2 separate regions of the Homo sapiens genome follow, and region 2 is linked to region 1. Evidence: fine-mapped expression QTL. A gene starts in region 1. The other region holds a variant in brackets. All regions are shown on one strand. Distances are between the middles of the regions. Region 1 holds the start of CCT4 (chaperonin containing TCP1 subunit 4). Region 2 overlaps USP34 (ubiquitin specific peptidase 34).

Region 1 (5,239 bases):
TTGGAGTATTTCAAATTAGGAATGCTCAATTTACAGATAATTCACTTATTTGTTTACTCTGTCTAGTATGTAATCTCTGAGAGCAAAGACTTTTGTTCACTAATGTGAACATGGTAGATAGGTGGCCCGCCAACACCGCCAAAAGGGCAAACCACAATGGAAATGCTACAGAGCAAGATACTCTTCTAAAAAATCCAACAAGGCTGGGCGTGATGGCTCACACTTGTAATACCAGCACTTTGAGAGGCTGAGGCGGGCAGACCACCTAAGGTCAGGAGTTCGAGACCAGCCTGGACAACATGGCGAAACCCTGCCTCTACTAATACAAAAATGAGCCGGGTGTGGCGGTGCGCATCTGTAGTCCCAGCTAGCTACTCGGGAGGCTGAGGCAGGAGAACCGCTTGAACCCAGGAGGCAGAAGTTGCAATGAGCAGAGATCACACCACTGCACTCCAGCCTGGGGGACAGAGCAAGACAGACTCCATCTCAACAAACAAACCAAACCTAACAAACCAAACAAAAACCAAAACTCTCAAATCATAGCTTTTGGTCATCATCAGTATGTTATAAAACATCTCTGGGGCCGGGTGCGGTGGCTCACGCCTGTAATCCCAGCGCTTTGCGAAGCCAAGGCAGGCCGTCACTTGAGGCCAGGAGTTTAAGACATAACGGGTCATCTTCACAGATAACTTAGGTGGCCTTTCCTTCCCACATGCACACCCTCCTCTGTTGTTTCAGTTCTTTGTCTGCTTTTGTTTCAAAGGTTGCTAAATTTCCCACTTATTTTGTTTGTTGAATATCAACCATATTATAAACTCTCTTGGCCCCCAAATTTATCTTTTTTTTTTTTTGAGACGGAGTTTCGCTCGTCACCCTGGCTGGAGTGCAATGGCGCGACGTCAGTTCACGGCAACCTCCGCCTCCCAGGTTCAAGCTATTCCCCTGCCTCAGCCTCCCGAGTAGCTGGGACTACAGGCCTACGCCAACACACCCACCTAATTTTGTATTTTTAGTAGAGACGGGGTTTCTCCATGTTGGTCAGGCTGGTCTTGAACTCCTGACCTCATGTGATCCGCCAGCCTCAGCCTCCCAAATTGCTGGGATTACAGACGTGAGCCACCCTGCCCGACCCAAAATTTATCTTTCAACATTCTGTTCCTAATCTAATAAATGTAAGCTTCAACTATGGTCCCTAGACAATTATCCTACAAACCTTCGTTTCCAGGTGTATTATCTCCTAAACTTACAAATGACTCCTAAATCTGGCCATTCTGACCTTTCCAACTCATTAGGACAAGTTAGAAACTATTACTTTTTCTTACATCCAGCGTTACCTATCTTAGCGCCATCACATTCCCAGTTACTTGGGCTGATGACTGCAAACACATGTAAGGTGTACTTTATATACGTGGGTCTTTATATGCTTTCTCACTGAATCCTCACAGCAAGCCTACACGATGGCTAAAAAGAAATGATCCCATAGCTGGGGGAGATTAAGCCAAATACTTTCCAGGACACCAGGCCTTTAACATCTGCCCCAACCTAGCTTTCTAATCTCACCTCTTCTGTAAACATACTACTATTCTCCAACCCAAAAGAACTACTATACTCAATATACACTCGGGCAAGATCTCTAAACCTCTGTCCTGACTTTTCCTTCCAGATTTTTCTATTTCAACTCGATTTCTCTTAATCTTAACTCTAAAAAGCAAACATTTTCCTCCAATTTTATAAGTGAATCTTTGGCACAGAGGTTACAGGTCACTAAGACATGAAGTAACGGAAGCAGAGAATGAAACTCTGGTCTTCCTGATTTCCAACGTGTGCCACACACTTCCACAAAAAAAACAAATAATTGTTTCTTGATTTGCCTATGTTTCACTGCACATGCGGAGACGACATCAACGTAACTTTTCCGCAACTATTTCAAACACGACACGTAAGTCGGTTCCCACATCCATCCCAGTACAATGGGCCCCGCCCCAATTTAGACTCGGAGAGTTCACCCAATTCGTCTCAACAGTTGTGCCAAGTGAAGTTTATTTAATAGTTCTTTAAATAAGAATAACAAAGCTGAAAGATACTGTGCATTCTACCAGTTCCAATAAGCAATAAGCGACAGCCCTCAAGCGTCAGATCCCTAGTGAAGACTGCATGCAATCCTCGGCATTTTGAACTGCTTTCGGCTCCAATATGAATGATGCACAGTGCAGGATGAAAAACTAAGGGAGATTAAGATGCAAAATGGGGCAAGTCCAAAGGCCTCCATACTCCGGGTTGGCGATCATCGGCAGAAAAACAGAAATAAGGATCCCTCCACTGGGCTGCTTCTATAGGGAGGACAAGAGAGGATCACCCGAAGAAATGGGAAATGAGCCAAACCCGCTCAAGCCCACGATGAGAGCGCAGAGCACAACCCCGCGGCGCCGCGGGTCAGGCCATGAGAGTGATACCTTTGGCGGCGGAAATGTTGCTGAAGCGGATCTGGGCTGGCTTGTCGCGGTCCTGATAGGCGCCTTTCCCGCGGCCGCCGGCAGCCCCGGCAGTCGCCCCGCTCCGGGGTGCCACATTCTCGGGCATGGCAAACTCCGCTGTGTCTGGGTTGGCTCGGGAAGGACGGATGGACCCGGATTCTGGCCGGCCGCAGTGTAATAACGGTAAGCCCTCACTGCCTTCACGAACCTTCCAGAAAGCGGCGCCGGCGTCGGGAGGAGGCGGAGGCGGAGAAGGGGGCCTTCCTTGCCGCGCGGCGCTGGCGTGACGTAGGAGGCTGTCCGCTGCGCGCCGGGCGAGGAGGATGCGTGCGGTGGGCTCCGGGCTGGCGAGATTGTACGCCCGGGGCGCTGTGGGTGAAGAGCGCCGGGGGAACCTTTACGCGAGGCAGCAATGACAACGCGCGATTTTAAAGGCGAGTGGTGAGGACATCCGCATTTCCTCACTCCACCTTGCACGGCTATGAGGTCCCCTCCTTTTTTTTTTTTTTTTTTTCTTTTTTTGGATACAGTCTCACTCTGTTGCCCAGGCTGGAGTGCAGTGGCGCAAAATCTCGGCTCACTGCAGCCTCCGCCTCCCAGGTTCAAGCGATCCTCCTCAGCCTCCCGAGTAGCTGGGATTACAGGCGTCCGCCACCATGCCCAGCTAATTTTTGTATTTTTAGTAGAGACAGGGTTTCACCATGTTGGCCAGGCCGGTCTCGAACTCCCGACCTCAGGTGATCCACCCGCCTCGGGCTCCCAAAGTGTTGGGATTACAGGCGTCAGCCACGAAGCCCGGCCTTTTTTTTTTTTTTTTTTTTTTTTGACAGAGTCTCGCTCTGTCGTCCAGGCGGGAGTGCAGTGGGGCGATCTTGGCTCACTGCAGCCTCGACCTCCGGGGCCCAAGCGATCCTCCCGCCACAGCCTCCCAACTAGCCAGGACGACAGGTGCCCGCCACCATGCCTAGCGAATTTTTGTATTCGAAACATAGCGAGACTGGGTTTCGCTGTGTTGCCCAGGCTGGTCTGACCTCCCCGGCTCAAAGCGGTCCACCCTCCTCAGCGTTTCAAAGTACTGGGATTACAGGCGTGAGCCACCGCGCCCACCCGGAGGTGCCCTCCTTTAACTCCGGCTGGATCTATCCGCGAGGTGGGGTGGGCGCCGGAATAACTCTCTAAGGGATATGACTGAGTCTGTTTTTGCCCGGCCACATAGACCTGCATTTTATGCAGTTTTGTTCATTTTGAAAGGGAGTCAGAAAAGGGAGATTTGGAATGAGGCGAGGTTAGTTATCTCGTATTGGTTGATACTGGGTGGTGGAGGTTTGACAGACTGCCAAATCAGGTCTGTCTAGTTACCACCGCCCGCTTGTTCTACACTAGTGTCTCCTGCATGACGTAGCCACTGACTCTTAGGGAACGTAAACATTATAATAAAGATCATTTATTTCCGTTATCTGCTAAGCACAGTGCTAAACCTTTACACGTTTTATATCTCGTTTAGTCCTCACAATAATCCTTTACTTAAAAGGTGAGAGAACTGGAGCCCAAAGAAGGAACTGAAGCCCAGGGTAAACGAGTCAGTAGATAGAAGCAGTATTCCAATACAAAGCAAGGACCAGAAGCCATGAGCTAAACTGCTGGTCTCCTATGACCACTATATTTCAGTAGGGAAGTTTATGAAATGAGGTTTGTTGAATGTTCGCTCACAATTATTAAGCACCTGCAAAGTGACAGTTGCGTGTGGTAGGTTCAGAAACAAATGTTCAAAGGTACTTAATCTTGTAATTATGAGGTGGTGGTGGTGTTGTTTGTTTGTTTGTTTTTGTTTGTTTTTGAGACGGAGTTTCACTCTTGTTGCCCAGGCTGGAGCAGTGGCACCATCTCGGCTCACCGCAACCTCCGCCTCCCGGGTTCAAGCGATTCTCCTGCCTCAGCCTCCCCAGTAGCTGGGATTACGGGCATGCACCACCATGCCCGGCTAATTTTGTATTTTTAGTAGAGACGGGGTTTCTCCATGTTGGACAGGGTGGTTTCGAACTCCCGAGCTCAGGTGATAGGCCCGCCTCGGCTTCCCAAAGTGCTAGGATTGCAGGCTTGGCGAGAGCCACCTCGCCAAGTTGTTCTTTAACACACATTTAGCATATTAGCACTAGGGGCCTGGCTCAGTAGCTCACGCCTGTAATCCCAGCACTTTGGGAGGCCGAGGTGGGTGGATCGCTTTAGGTCAGGAGTTTAAGACCAGCCTAGCCAACGTGGCGAAACCCCGTCTCTACTAAAAATCAAAACATTAACCGGGGGTGTAATCCCAGCTACTCGGGAGGCTGAGGCAGGAGAATCCCTTGAAGCCAGGAAGTGGAGGTTGCAGTGAGCCGAGATTGCGCCACTGCACTCCAGCCTGGGTGATAGAGCAAGACTTTGTCTCAAAAAAAAAAAAAAAAAAAAAAGAAGGATATTAGCACTAGGAAATGAAGATCCATAAACCTCTGAGGCCGACTTCTCTTCAGAGGACCAGAATACTCCCAAGTAGCACATAAATTCTATGGTTATTTGTTTAGACAACTGATGTAATATGTTGGAAACAAGTGGGTGATGAGGAAATGCATTAATTTTGGGATGTAAAATACTGGATTTGAGTTTATTAATAGCTCTGCTACTTATTAGCTATGTGACCTAAGGAAGGCCACTTAAATCCTTTGGGTCTCATTTTCCTCATCTGTAAAATAGGAGGGTTGAACTAGATGATCTCTAGGGGCTTACTAAAC
Region 2 (5,239 bases), 610 kb before region 1:
TGAGTAAAAACACGAAAGGAATTAGAAGAAGGTGGAAAAGCACAAATATAGTAGAAATAGGACACCACCACCAAGTTATAGATTAATGAAGTACACTTAATAACCAATAAAGTCATGAACATATGTCATAATTCATATTAACAAGAAGAGAATACATAGAATAGTATATAATTTTCTGAACATACCTGACTAGCGTCCTTTATATGTATGTTGTCAACTAATTTGCATAACAACCAAAAATACTCTTTACATCCTGGTTTTAATATTGGTTCTTCCTCATAATCATCTATCTATTAAAAAAATTTTATACTTTGTGAAAACATTTTAAAAATAAATAAAATTATAATACATTTAAGAAACTAGAGGCTTTATGAAATAAATTCCTATATCCACTAAACAGTATTCAAAATCTTTTTAAAAATGGAGTACACGCTTAGTTTCTGTAAAATCAGAATAACCAGGCAAAAAAATGACAAACGTAAGAACTTTTAGGAAAATATTAGTCTCAAATTACTGACATTAAAAAAGATATGAACAGGGAGGAAAATAATGTAAATCCAACAACACACTGAATTTCTGGGGTTAGTAAAAAGTGGGCTCTAAATTTATTATGTATTAGAAGCCTTTTAAAGACTAGTATATGAACTAGGGTAGGAAATAAAATTTAAAATTCTGAATATCATAAAGATAAAAAGAAAACTGTGACTTACTAGAGAAGAGAGCTCCATTTATGATTTTTTATTAGTCAACTTATTAACACAAGGCCCAGAACCGAGTGAGAATAAATGCTATTTCTAAAATAGAGTATCCATGAGAGACCACAGAGCTGAAATCAGTCTCTTCCTAGTAGTAACATGGACACAATGTGTCACAATGCTGTCACCTTAAGTAGTATATAACTACTATCCTCTTGGTAAAAAATCACATACAGTAGTCAAATGATCAAAATTTTAAGGATATATTACAACGGTAAACTGAGGCAAAGGAAATTTCAAAAATAGAAACTGCTTCTAAACACAGTAAAATCTTACCCTAATAGGTTTGAGTGCTTGAGCATCAGGAAGAAATTTCAATAATGTTGAGGCAGCCAATAGCAGAAAAGAACGATTGATTGAGTCTCCTCCATCCAGCCCTGACAGGGATAACTTATAGAGACCACTGCATGATTCATGACGAACTGCAGTCTAGATGAAAAAGAAAGTTCCACAAACAGTGAGAGTTAGTATTACAAAGTTAATATGTTAGCAGAAATAATTTTAGGTGATTTTAAATACAATGTTCTGCCGGGCAAGCCTGTAATCCCAGCACTTTTGGAGGCCCAGGCAGGAGGATAACCTGTGGCCAGGTATCTGAGACCAGCCTGGCCAACATGGCAAAACCCTGTCACCACAAAAAATACAAAAATTAACCGGGTGTGGTGACTTGCGCCTGTAGTCCCAGCTACTCTGGAGACAGGCACAAGAATTGCTTGAACCAGGGAGGCAGAGTCTGCAGTGAGCTGATATGCCACTGCTCTCCAGACTGGGTGGCAGAACAAGATTATGCCTCATAAAAATAATTAATAAATATAATGTTCTAATCCCATACATATATATATGTAAATTACACATGATCAAATAAAGTATCTCAAGGTATACCATAATATATAAATACAGTGTTTTAGAAATCCTAAAGCATGGCCATAAAAACAGAAACAAAACAAAATAATGACAACAGGTAAATACAAAGAATAATTGAGTAAGGACATTTAGAATCATTTAAGTTATTTACAAGTCAGTAAGAGGATAAAATATTTTCAGAACTAGAAGCAACACAGAAGCAACTTCAATCGGAATATTCTATAGATTGTAAGCAAACTGTCCAAATGTCAAAATGGTTACCTGAGACAGGACTAGAACACAAATGACATTATATCCAGAACTAATTTTGTTTTGTTTTGTTTTGTTTTTAAGACAGAGTCTTGCTCTGTCTTCCAGGCTGGAGTGCAGTGGTGCGATCTTGGCTCACTGCAACCTCTGCCTCCTGGGTTCAAGCGATTCTCCTGCCTCAGCCTCCCGAGTAACTGAGATTACAGGTGCCTGCCACCATACCCAGCTAATTTTTTGTATTTTTAGTAGGGATAGGGTTTCACCATGTTGGCCAGGCTGGTCTTGCATTCCTGACCTCATGTGATCCACCCACCTCGGCCTGTGATTACAGGCGTGAGCCACAGTGCCCAGCCAGAGCTAATATTATTAGACAACGCAGGTTTAAAAAATAAGTGACTTTGGAGCTAAATATATTACTGTGTGTTTCTATTATTTCACATAGGAATATGAGGTGAGTAATGCCAAGATACAGCTAATAAAAATTATATTGGCCTCAGTGTCAACATGGGAAGCAAAATATATTTCTTTTATTTATTTGTAGTCTCTCTAGCCTCTATTTCTACTTAAATAGAAAACACAGGCTGGGTGCAGCGGCTCATGCCTATAATCCCAAGCAGTTTGGGAGGCCGAGGCAGGAGCATTACATGACACCAGGAGTTCAAGACCAACCTGGACAACACAGCGAGACCCCGTCTCTACAAAAAAGTTAAAAAACTAGCTGGGCATGGTGATGTGCACCTATGGTCCCAGCTACTTGGGAGGCTGAAGCCAGAGGATCGCTTGTTCCCAGGAGGTTGAGGCTGCAGGGAGCCTTGATTGCACCACTACACTCTAGCCTGGGTGATACAGGGAACAGGGAGATTCTGTCTCAAAGAAA[G/GA]AAAAAAAAAAGGCCACAGAACTTTTCTAAAACATAAATTACCAAAATAAATTCTCAAGCCCTTCCTACTACCTGGAAAAACTTTTTTTTATTAATCCAAAGCAAAATAATCATTCTATAAACATTTCAGAAAAATATAAATGCTACATAATATATAATAGTCAGAAGTTCTTAAACATTGTACATAGTTCAAAACACTCTAGACCTTAAAGGATTAAGCAGATAATGTGATATATTTATGGACTCACGCATATTTGTTTCCATTAGCTCTTTTATTATCAATGCTAATAACATGAAAACATACAAAAAATAACAGTACTAACCTTCAATCTTTATCTTACCTCAGGAATAAGGAGAGTCAATTTCTTTAGCCAATCTTGTAAATGATCGCTATCAGCAAGGCTAGATTTCACTAAAGAACAGCAATGAGCCCAACTCACCAAGAGCCACATTGAATAATGTGAAACTAAAGAAAAATTAGAAAACAGTTCACTATAAAAGGTTTGTGCTAAAATGAAAACACAATGTTCAATATTAAAGGTAAAATATATCAATATATTATTCAAGTTTTTATTTATTAAAAGTTAACTTTGTGGAACCCTTACCTTCATGTCTAGACCTGTGATCAGACTGAGCTTTTAAAACTCTGTAAAGTAAAAACACCACCACCACCAATTAAATTCAGCAATGAATTAAAAATAATTCAATTTATTAACATATATCCTTTAAGGTTATCACTTCCCCCCCAAAAAAGGAAAGCAGTGGGTGTGTGAGTGAGAGTGAGAGTGAGAGTGAGAGAGAGTGTGAGTGTGTGTGTGTTTTAAAAGACAGGAGACAGGGTCTCACTCTGTTGCCCAGGCTGGAGTGCAGTGGCATGATCATGGCTCACTGCAGCCTTGACCTTCCAGGCTCAAGCAACCCTCCCACCTCAGCCTCCCAATAGCTGGGACTACAAGCATGTGCCACCACACTCAGCTAATTTTTGCAAAAGAGACTATATTTTAAGAGAGCTCCATTATTTATTTGTTTTATATTCTTTATCATTTATTTAAAGACTCACTGAAGAAGAGTCAAACTCATTGAAGAAGAGAGTAGAATAATGGTTACCAGAGGCTGGAGGGTGGGGTAGGGTAGGGTGGGGTGGGGCAGAGGGTATAAGTCAAAGGGTATGAAGTTCCAGATAGAGCAGGAAGTTTTGAAATCTATTACACAGCAGGGTGTCTAGTCAATAAAAATATATTGTATGTTTCAAAATAAAAAACAAACCAAATAAAAGAATCACTGGTAAAATCTTATTACAGCAAATACGAAATGACTTCAGATTTAATAAACAAAATTTGAATGAATAAAACATTGACTGAAATAAGTAAACCCTCAAGAAGTGCTCATGATTTAGTTACTAAAGAGATGTGTGTGACAAACACATAGGTTATAATGATTTAGAGTCTAAACTTTAAGACTCCTTTAAAAAATACATAATCTGAATCTAATCATGAAGGCTAATCATGAAAACTCAAACTGAAAAGTACTCTATAAAATAACTGGCCTGCATTACTTGAAAATGTATCATGAGAGAAAGGCTGAGAAAGTTATCTCTGATGAAAAGAAACAGAAGAACTGACAACTAAATGCAATACATTTAGTTGATCCTGAAGCAAGAAAAATACTGCTATAAAGAATACCAATAGGATTATTTTAATATGAACTATATGTTAGATAACATATCAATGTTAAATTCTATAAATTTAAAAATTTTACTCTAGCTATTAAGAAAATCTCCTTGGTCTTAGGAGATACACAACAAAGTACTGGTGAACAGTCATGATATCTGCAATTCAGTCTCAGAAGATTCAGGAAAACATGTAAACACACAGAAAATACGTGACTCATAAATACAAGACACATTTTAGCAACAGGTTAATAATACGTAAATTTGGATGGAAGGTATGAGAGATTTCATCATAATATCCCCCAAATTTTTCTATTAAGTTTAGAATTTTTCAAAATAAAGTTTTAAAACATTATATTCCTGCTATACATACACACATAAAATATATCTTAAAATGCATACCTAGGAGCCAGATTATCATACGTATAAGCAACAGACATAAGTCGCTGAATCAAACTGGTTCCTTGGACAAGAACAAGAAATACCTTTAAAACAAAAACATTTTAAAAGATATTTAAATACAGCAAAAGGAAAACCCTCAAAAAGCACTCAAGATTTAGTTACTAAAGAGATGTGTATTACAAAATTTTAACCCAAAATTCCAAATTATTTTGATATTTATCTATAACACAATAAAGAATGTCGTAAGAATTCTTTGAAAATACTGTAAAAATGCCAAGAATCGGAAAACCAGAATTTTATAATCACACTTAAGAGCAGCAACTGTAGGCTGGGTATGGTGGCTCACTGTAATTGCTGTAATCCCAGCAATTAGGGAGGCTCAGGTGGGTGGATTGCTTGAGCCCAGAAATCCGACACTAGCTG

The links. PIP is the estimated chance that this variant, and not a neighbour inherited with it, causes the effect.
Region 2: its variant is the best candidate, but not a certain one, in a credible set for the expression of CCT4 in nasal epithelium (TOPMed, PIP 0.83).

What each region holds. Positions count from the first base shown.
Region 1 is chr2:61,885,928-61,891,166 of GRCh38, forward strand. CCT4 (chaperonin containing TCP1 subunit 4) reads right to left here and starts at 2,729. Exons shown (of 14, transcript NM_006430.4): 1 at 2,454-2,729. The coding sequence starts at 2,580. It also overlaps a transcript of COMMD1 not described here. RefSeq lists enhancers at 1,757-2,318, 2,319-2,878, 2,420-2,499, 3,439-3,998.
Region 2 is chr2:61,280,059-61,285,297 of GRCh38, forward strand. It overlaps USP34 (ubiquitin specific peptidase 34), which reads right to left. Exons shown (of 80, transcript NM_014709.4): 35 at 4,817-4,899; 36 at 3,351-3,391; 37 at 3,087-3,211; 38 at 1,032-1,184; 39 at 186-290. Among named protein-coding and RNA genes, the nearest start is that of C2orf74-AS1, 100 kb to the left of the region's middle. The variant G/GA (reference allele first, on the strand shown) is at 2,746.